Homo sapiens: one gene and its partner. The protein of the gene in region 1 purifies or fractionates together with the protein of each later gene. This does not show direct contact. Each region holds a gene or a part of one and is shown in the gene's direction. Other genes may lie near its edges.

The links. Proteins that work in one complex are often made in the same cells at the same time.
Region 2: the proteins of ZDHHC7 (region 1) and MARCHF6 purify together in Homo sapiens (affinity purification with mass spectrometry; 2 studies listed by BioGRID and IntAct, with this or other methods). This does not show direct contact.

Annotation. Positions count from the first base shown.
Region 1 is NC_000016.10:85,001,536-85,005,035, reverse strand, and holds part of ZDHHC7 (palmitoyltransferase ZDHHC7), read left to right. Parts: intron 1-452; exon of another isoform or gene 453-686; intron 687-1,792; exon of another isoform or gene 1,793-3,371; intron 3,372-3,500.
Region 2 is NC_000005.10:10,352,377-10,356,494, forward strand, and holds the start of MARCHF6 (E3 ubiquitin-protein ligase MARCHF6), read left to right. Parts: upstream 1-1,318; 5' UTR 1,319-1,522; coding exon 1,523-1,541; exon of another isoform or gene 1,542-2,666; intron 2,667-4,118. UniProt on the Homo sapiens protein: Endoplasmic reticulum membrane-associated E3 ubiquitin ligase that plays a critical role in mitigating endoplasmic reticulum stress, the regulation of cholesterol and lipid homeostasis, and ferroptosis.

The DNA of each region.
Region 1 (3,500 bases):
AAAGGGGAACCTTTGGGGTACGAGTAAGCATTCCTTGGAGGCCACCTCATCTGGCCTGCGTGCTCTAGTGAGGTCCCGCGCACATGTTTTCTGGACCTGAAGTTGTGACTTGCCTACAGGTGGGGTTTTTCTCTTCACCCCCGTCTCCCTCTTTCTCTATAACCCTTGTGCATTTCTCTTCTACTCCTTTTCTGCCAGGCTCCTTTGGGCCTCTGGCCCACTCCCCTGGCAGATCTTATCACACGCCCCTGTCGTTTGCCTGTGGACTTCCTTTCTACTTTTTCTTGTCTCCCTCAAGCACCCTCCTTCCCTTACTTATTCACTCAAGAAATGTTTGTGGAGTGCGTGGTGAACCCGGGAGTGCTGGGGATACTATGAGTAACATTCCATTGAGGTGATGGCAGAACAAGCAGCCAGGGAGAGGCTGCTAGGAAGGGAGGCCAGCAGGCTCCAGATGGAGTGGGGCTTTCTAGGCCATGGTGGTGGGGTGGAGTGGGGGGTGGGGTGGGATTTTATTCGCACTGAAAAGGCAGTGATTGCATGAGCTTAGGGAGGGGAGTGACATGATCTGATTTACGTCTGTGGAAGACCACTCTGGGTGCTGCATGGGGGACTGGACTGTTGGGTGAGCAGAGGCATGAGAGTAGAGAGAGGACTGGTCAGCAGGTGATCTAAGCACTCCCCAGGTGAGAGCTCATGGGACCTTGGTCTGGGCGGGTGAGGAGGTGGGAGAAGTGGTCGGATTTGGGGTAGGTTTAGAGGTGCACCCCATAGGACTTGCTGATCAGCTAGATGTGGAGAGGTGGGGAATGAGATACATGAAGGGCGGGGCCTTTTTTTTTGGGTGTGGTGTGCCGTTGATTGAGATGGGAAAGAGTGGGGTCGTGACTGAGTGGGGGAGGTTCTGCTTTGACCCTCCTGCCCTGGAGTTGTTAAGTGGCCAGTTGGATAGACGCCCTTAGGGATGCATCGTCAGCCTGAGAGTTTTCCAGATATCTTTTTTTGTTTAAACTTCGTGAAACTGAGGTTCCCCATTAGCTCCTTTGTGGAGAGCATGTAGATGAAGGGAAGGCCGAGGACTAAGCCCGGGTGCTCCCGGCGTTTACATGGGTGGAGGAGAAGTATCCAGTCAGAGACCGGGTGTGGCTAGGGGGAAGGGAAGTCAGTGTTGTCCCCCAGGCCCCTCACTCCTGAGACTGGTGTTCCCTCTCCCACTTCCACGGTTCATTGTGTGCTGTGTGTGTTCCCCCACTTTGCCATGTTTTTGATCTGCAGTGTTCTGATCCTACTGTAGAGTGATTAAGTATTTTAATATGAAATGCCCTTCTAGAAAGGTCAGGCAATGTCACTATTCACCGTATGACTTACGTGCCAGCATATCATTGAGATCTGGCTTGAGTTGGGTTAATATTCTGGTGTGGATTTTTTTTTTCCTTAAAAGTAATATTCTGATCTTTGGATTCAGTAATTTGAGTAGAAAATCATGGTTTCTTAGAGCATCATTTCCTATGGTAGGATTTGAAAGGACAAACTGAATATTTCATGATTGCCAGTTGATGGCAAGAGCACTTAGGAGCGCAGTCGCCATCAGCTCACTGCAGTGGGTCAGCTGAGTGCTGCGCTCCTTTTGTGAGTTGAGGGAGGACGTGAGCTCCCTCTGTAGCCTTCCCCACCTTGACTCAGGTTCCCTGACTCATCCGGGCTGGTGGCATACCTGGGATGTGGCCCCGTTTGCACGGCCCATAGGAACCACTGCCTCCGGATCTTACAGCGCCCCCCTGGACCCAGCCTCAGTCCTGCCCCTCACTTCCTCTGAGTCTGTTTCTCAGGCTCCTCGGGCCCTCAGTGCCCTGAGTTTCGGTCACTTGGCTTACCAGGCCTCTCCTCCTGCCCCCTGGACTCTGAGGTTGGCCTCTCCCGCTTGCATCTTGGTCTTGCCTTCGTTACTCTGCTTTTCTAGCCCATCATCCTGGCTAATCTCCAGCCCTGGGTAAGTTTATGGTGCTGGGCTGGGCTTTTGGATAAAAGGACCAGCCATTCCCATCCTCTATGAGACACTTAAGGTGTCAGCATTGTCTGGGCCCTGCAGGGTGACAGTTCAGGCCCCTCTTGGCCGCCGCCTCTCCACCCCATTTCCATTTTGCGGTCTCCATAGGCCCTCCCAGCGCCGCAGCCCCGCTCCTCCTCTCTGCTGAGACACTCAGCACTCGTCTTCCTGAGTGAACTGCTTTCACTTCTCTTCATGCCCGGGTTTCCCCTTTCTTCCTCCAGGGAGGAAGGATCATTCCGCTTTGTCGACCATCCCCCCACTCCACCCACGCTTTCTCCTATCGATAAAATTCACACTTGATTCAGATTTCCTCAGCTTTTCCTTAATGTCCTTTCTCTGTCCCAGGATCCCACCCAGGATCACACAGGACATGAGTGGGCACATCTCGTCAGCCCCTCTTGGCTGTGGTGCTTTCTCAGGCGTTCCTTGTTTGGATGACTGGCACTTGGGAGCAGTGCTGTGGGTCAGGGATTTTTTTGTAGGATGCTCTTCTCTTGGGACTTGTTTGATATTTTCCTTATGACTAGACTTGGGTGATGCAGTTAGAGGGCCTGTCTCGCCACAGCCTGTCAAGGCTGTGTTCTGTCCACAGGACTCATTGCTATGGATGTGGCCTTGAACACCTGGCTGACTGAGGTGGTGTTTGCCAAGTTTCTCCTCAGTAAAGTTATTTTCCTCCTTTCCGTACTCCACTCGTTAGAAACTGTCCCTGTGAACGGCCATACTTGAGGGGTGGGGAGCAGCGTCCTCCCTGCTGGAGGAGGAGGAGCCACAGGCATTCCTCGGACTCGTGGCGCTGGGTATTTGTCTATTTTCTGTTTATTCAGCCACTGCTTTATATCAGTCTGGACTCGTGCATGTTTACTTGATGCTTCGGGTTATAAAGCAATACTATTTTATTTTCCTGGAAAAAGCTTTGGCCATTGGGAGCTCTTTTACTTGGTTCCTATATCCCTTTCATGAGCCCACCTGTCCCCATGATTGTGTGTGTGTATTGTGAACACTTCATTATTCTCTGGCAATACAAGATGCTCCAAGCTCATCTTGTATATATATTTATTTTTTTTGCCTCAGTCCTGGTTCCTTTTATTTATTAGAGAATGGTATTAAAAACCAAGATCTGTGGTGGCTCACACCTATAATCCCAGCACTTTGGCCGACATGGGAAGATCGCTTGAGTCCAGGAATTCAAGAGCAGCCTGGGCAACTAGCAAGATCCCATCTTGAATATTAAACAACAACAACAAACCAAGATCTGGGAATTAGGTGTGCTGGTGGCTGTTGGTGTGTTGCTTCTAGGCCGTCTCAGCTGACAGAGCAAGTAAATATATGTGTGGATGCTAACCCATGTGTGTATACATATCTGTAGATATTTCCATATGCAACTGCTTGTATCTTCCTTAAACCAAAAACTTAGGTCATTCTAGCTTCCTCCTCTTGCTTACCTGGA
Region 2 (4,118 bases), on another chromosome or scaffold:
CTTTGGGAGGCCGAAGCGTGAGGATCGCTTAAAGACAGGAGTTGAAAATCATACTGGTCAATATAGTGAGATTGCAGTGAGCCATTATCGCGCCACTGCATTCCTGCCTGGGTGACAGTGCGAGACCCCTTCTCAAAAAAAAAAAAAAAAAAAGAAAGAAAAAAATCATAAGCAAACAACAACAAAAAAACAAATATAAAGAATGGCGGTCTGCTTAATTCTCCGTGCCAGCCCTTGAAATCAGTGGGTATTATTATGTAGAGTTTGAGTTCTTTCCTCCCTTGAGTAACATGAGTGACATCAGTAACATTAGTCAAGCGCTGCTCTTTTTGAAAGACTGTATTTCATTATTTTTATTCTAAACCTTACTCTGTTTGATGAAGATTGGGGGAAGAGCCCTCCCAATTCCACCGCTCACACATAACAGCGGTTGCTAGCATTCTTTATTTGTGCTAGGTCATCTGCATATTGTTTAAACATTTTTCGAGGCTGGAAAGACTGCTCCCACTCAGGCAATTCTGACGTGGCGGCCCTTCTAATTTATATTCTCTAAATAATTCTTCATTTAGAGAAAACAGTCAGGGATTACAGTGAGGGAGGGTGACGTGCTGACGGGGACAGAGCTTGGCTTTTGATCATTCTCCCCTTAGCTCTGCCCAGGCAAGCGTCCCTAACTCAGGGTATCGGAACCGATCTCCCTTAGAGGATTATGTTTCAACCACCAGCCTCAGCGGTTTACTCAAATGTCCTTCCAGCCAAATGCAGAAGTCTCCCTGGGAGTAATTTTGGTGAAGTCAGCTTTTGCCTTTTTCATCACAGGCAGGCTTTAGTAGTTCCTCAAAACGTGCACCACAACTGCCCGGCTGCCAAACAGAAATGCTGATGCCTGGGCCCACTCTAGCCATTTGGCCTCGGCATCACGGTGCGGGAGCGTGGGGCGCAGACTCGCATTGTCACAGGAACCTCCCGGCCTTCCGAAGAGCCCCGCGCCGGGGCCTTTGTCTCGCACGTCGGCTGGGGCGGGAGCTAGGTTCTCGCAGCCTCCTCCCACCGCTCTGCGCCTTCTTTGTCCCTCCAGAAGCCGCCATCAAAGCTCAGCTCCTGATTAGGTTTCGGCCCCGCTGGCCGGCGCAGTCTCGGCGACTACCCCAGGCGGCCTGGCGCACGCGAGGATTCGCCGCGCCCCAGATGCAGGTGCCTCCCCTCCTTAGCCGCCGACCGACAGTGCACGCCGCGGCCGCCGGAAGTGACAGCGCCTGTCGTTGGGGAGCTCCCGCCCCTTCCGCCTCGGCGCCCCGCCCAGGCCTCGCCCCTAGGTGTTCCCGCCCCTCCCCCTCCCGTGTCGCTCGCTTTCTGTCAGCCTCTCTCCCTCTCCCTCTCCCCTCTCCTTCCTCTCGCTTCCTCTCTCGCACCTGAGCGTACGCACCTGCCCGGGCCCGGCTCCCTCCTCCTCTCCCCTCCCTCTTTCCCCGCCCGGCCGCGGGAGCCTCGTGGCTGCGTCACCGCCGCCCCCCCAGACAAGATGGACACCGCGGAGGAAGGTAAGTCGGCGACGCGCGGCGCCCGAGCCCTTGCGTCGGCGCCCGGGTTCGTACCCCGGCCAGGTCCGCGGCGCTCGAGGTGGGCTGCTGGATCGCGGCGGGGCGGACGCCTGGGCCGTTTGTCCACCCGCTGGGCCTCTGGGCCGGGGAGCGGAAGGTGACCCTCTGCGCGCCCCCCGCCGTTTCCCGCCCGCGCCGCCGAGGGGGGCGGGGACCCTGCCGGGCAGGGGCCGGGGCCGGGGTCGGGGCCTCGGGGCTACTGCAGGCCGGCGTGGCCTCCCTTGTCCCCGCCGTCGCGCGCTGGCCCAGAAAAGGGGGCCTCTGTCGCTGCCGTCCGGGGGCGTTTTCCGCACCCTTCCCCCACTGGGTTTTGTCTTTCTTTACGTCCTTCTGCCTATTGCTCGCCAGGCCCTACCCCCTCGCGACAGAACTTCTTTGTTGACTTTGAAACTTCGCGAAAAATACCCCGCCAGATGACGGCCGAGTGGAGTGAGCTGACCCCTGTTGAAAAGCCTGGTCCTCGGCTTGCCTGCCGCTCGAGAATCTGTTTACTAAACGGGGAGGCTCTTTTGTTGCGATCCATTTGGTTTTAAATCCTTGACACCTATAAGCAGGGTTCTGTTTGTTTTGTTTTGCGATTGCTTGTGTTTTGGATACGGTTACATTGAACAAACTGACCCTTGTAAAATGAATACTTAAGATATAAACGTCCACACCTTATGTCTCTTCAAACGCATTTTCTTACCCACTGAAGGTAGTAGATTATTTTTAACCAGCTGTGTTTTTAAATGAGTGGTGAGTTTATAGAGGAAATTACTAAATTTTGCTTTTTTTGATGTTCCGGTTATCGTGCAAATGCTTTTCTACTTTAGGTATATTTATGGGGGTATGAGCGTCTTTCAACCTTATGGGTTGCGATTTTGGCGATTTTAAACGAAAATGAATTATCAAACGCCGTCATGGAGTGCAATAATGAGTGAAAAAAGTTTGATATTATCTATGTAATGAGTTGATAACGACTTATTTTTTTTTAAAGAAGTCTTGCCTTTAATAAATACCTCAACTATAACATGTGGCACTTGATGTACATTCGCGTTCCATCTTCGTAAAAAGCCTGTGGAATAGGTAGGTATTATCTTTTATAGATGTGGAAATGTAGGCTTCGTTATTTTAATAGCTTGTCGAAGCTTTACACAGGTAGTAAGAGGCAGATTTGAACCTAGGCATTCTGATTGCAAGTAATTTCCCTTTCATTATGCCACAGTGTGTTTATTATATACACTGAGTGTAGCTAATCGCCACTGGAGACGCCTTTGGAAAAAATAGTAAAGCGAAACTGCTGAAGGTTGCGAACTATTTCTTTTTGACAGGTGGTCCTTGCGTGTAAATTTCCATCTACATAGGTTTCACATCCTTTTAGATTCAGGTTTTAATGAGTAAATCTAGTAAGGCATGTATTTATCACAGGATAGGTACGGACGTATTACATTCAATTCTCATTCTTTTGGCCTGGGCATTGCTACTTGCATACTTTTATGGTGTGACAGTAATCTGTGGTAATTCAGGAATTGCGCTCGAAGCACGTATGGAATCATGAAATATTTTCACTGTACTTCTAGTGCTTAAATATATTTTTTCTCTTGTAAAATTATAATCAGGATAAGGTATACATAACATTTATTTATTGAACACTGTTGCCTGTTAAAATAACATGTGCTGAAGACTCAACGTGTAGTATGTGCTTTACTAAACACTTTATATACATTTCATTTAATTCTCTCACATCGTTAGGTAGTCGGCATTTTCATTTTACAGATGAGGAAACTGATGGTTAGTATGATTAAGTAACTTGTCCAGGATAATACAGGTAGTAAATGGCAGAGGCAAGATTCAGACTCATGTCTGTCAGAGTCGCACTTAAATTAGATTATTTATTTATGAGTGTATACTACAAGTCCAATGTTGAAATTTATTTTTGTCACTCCCTCTATAGGATGAATCATTTATATAATTTGGTGGAAACTTTATTTTGCTTTATTTTGTTTTATGAAATTATTAGTCATGAAATGCAAGTGAATTTTAGTGCCGTATTCTCATGCCTGCTTTTGCAAAATTCCAGTTTGGAAGTCTTCTGACATTTTTACAATTAAATTTAAGTTGAAATAACACTTAAAGGAAAAGGGAGGGTTATAGAGGATTAAAAATGATATAGCAAAGATGCCAAAAAACTAATAAAAAATGTTCTATTTGTGAAATCAGTTATTATAGGTTATTTCTTTAAAAAATGCGACTTAGGTTTTTTAAATCTGCTTAGAAATTTTTTGGTAGGAGATATTCAAAGTATGGCCAAACATAAAACTAAATTAAAAAAAAATCAGTATCACCTACTTTTGAAAACACTTATACTGTTGTGGTTCTGTTTTTTATTTATTTTATTTTATTTTATTTTATTTTATTTTATTTTATTTTATTTTATTTTATTTTATTTTATTTTCCGAGATGGAGTCTTGCCCTGTTGCCCAGGCTGAAGTGCAGTGGCATGATCTCTGCTCACTGCAACCTCCACCTCCCAGGTTC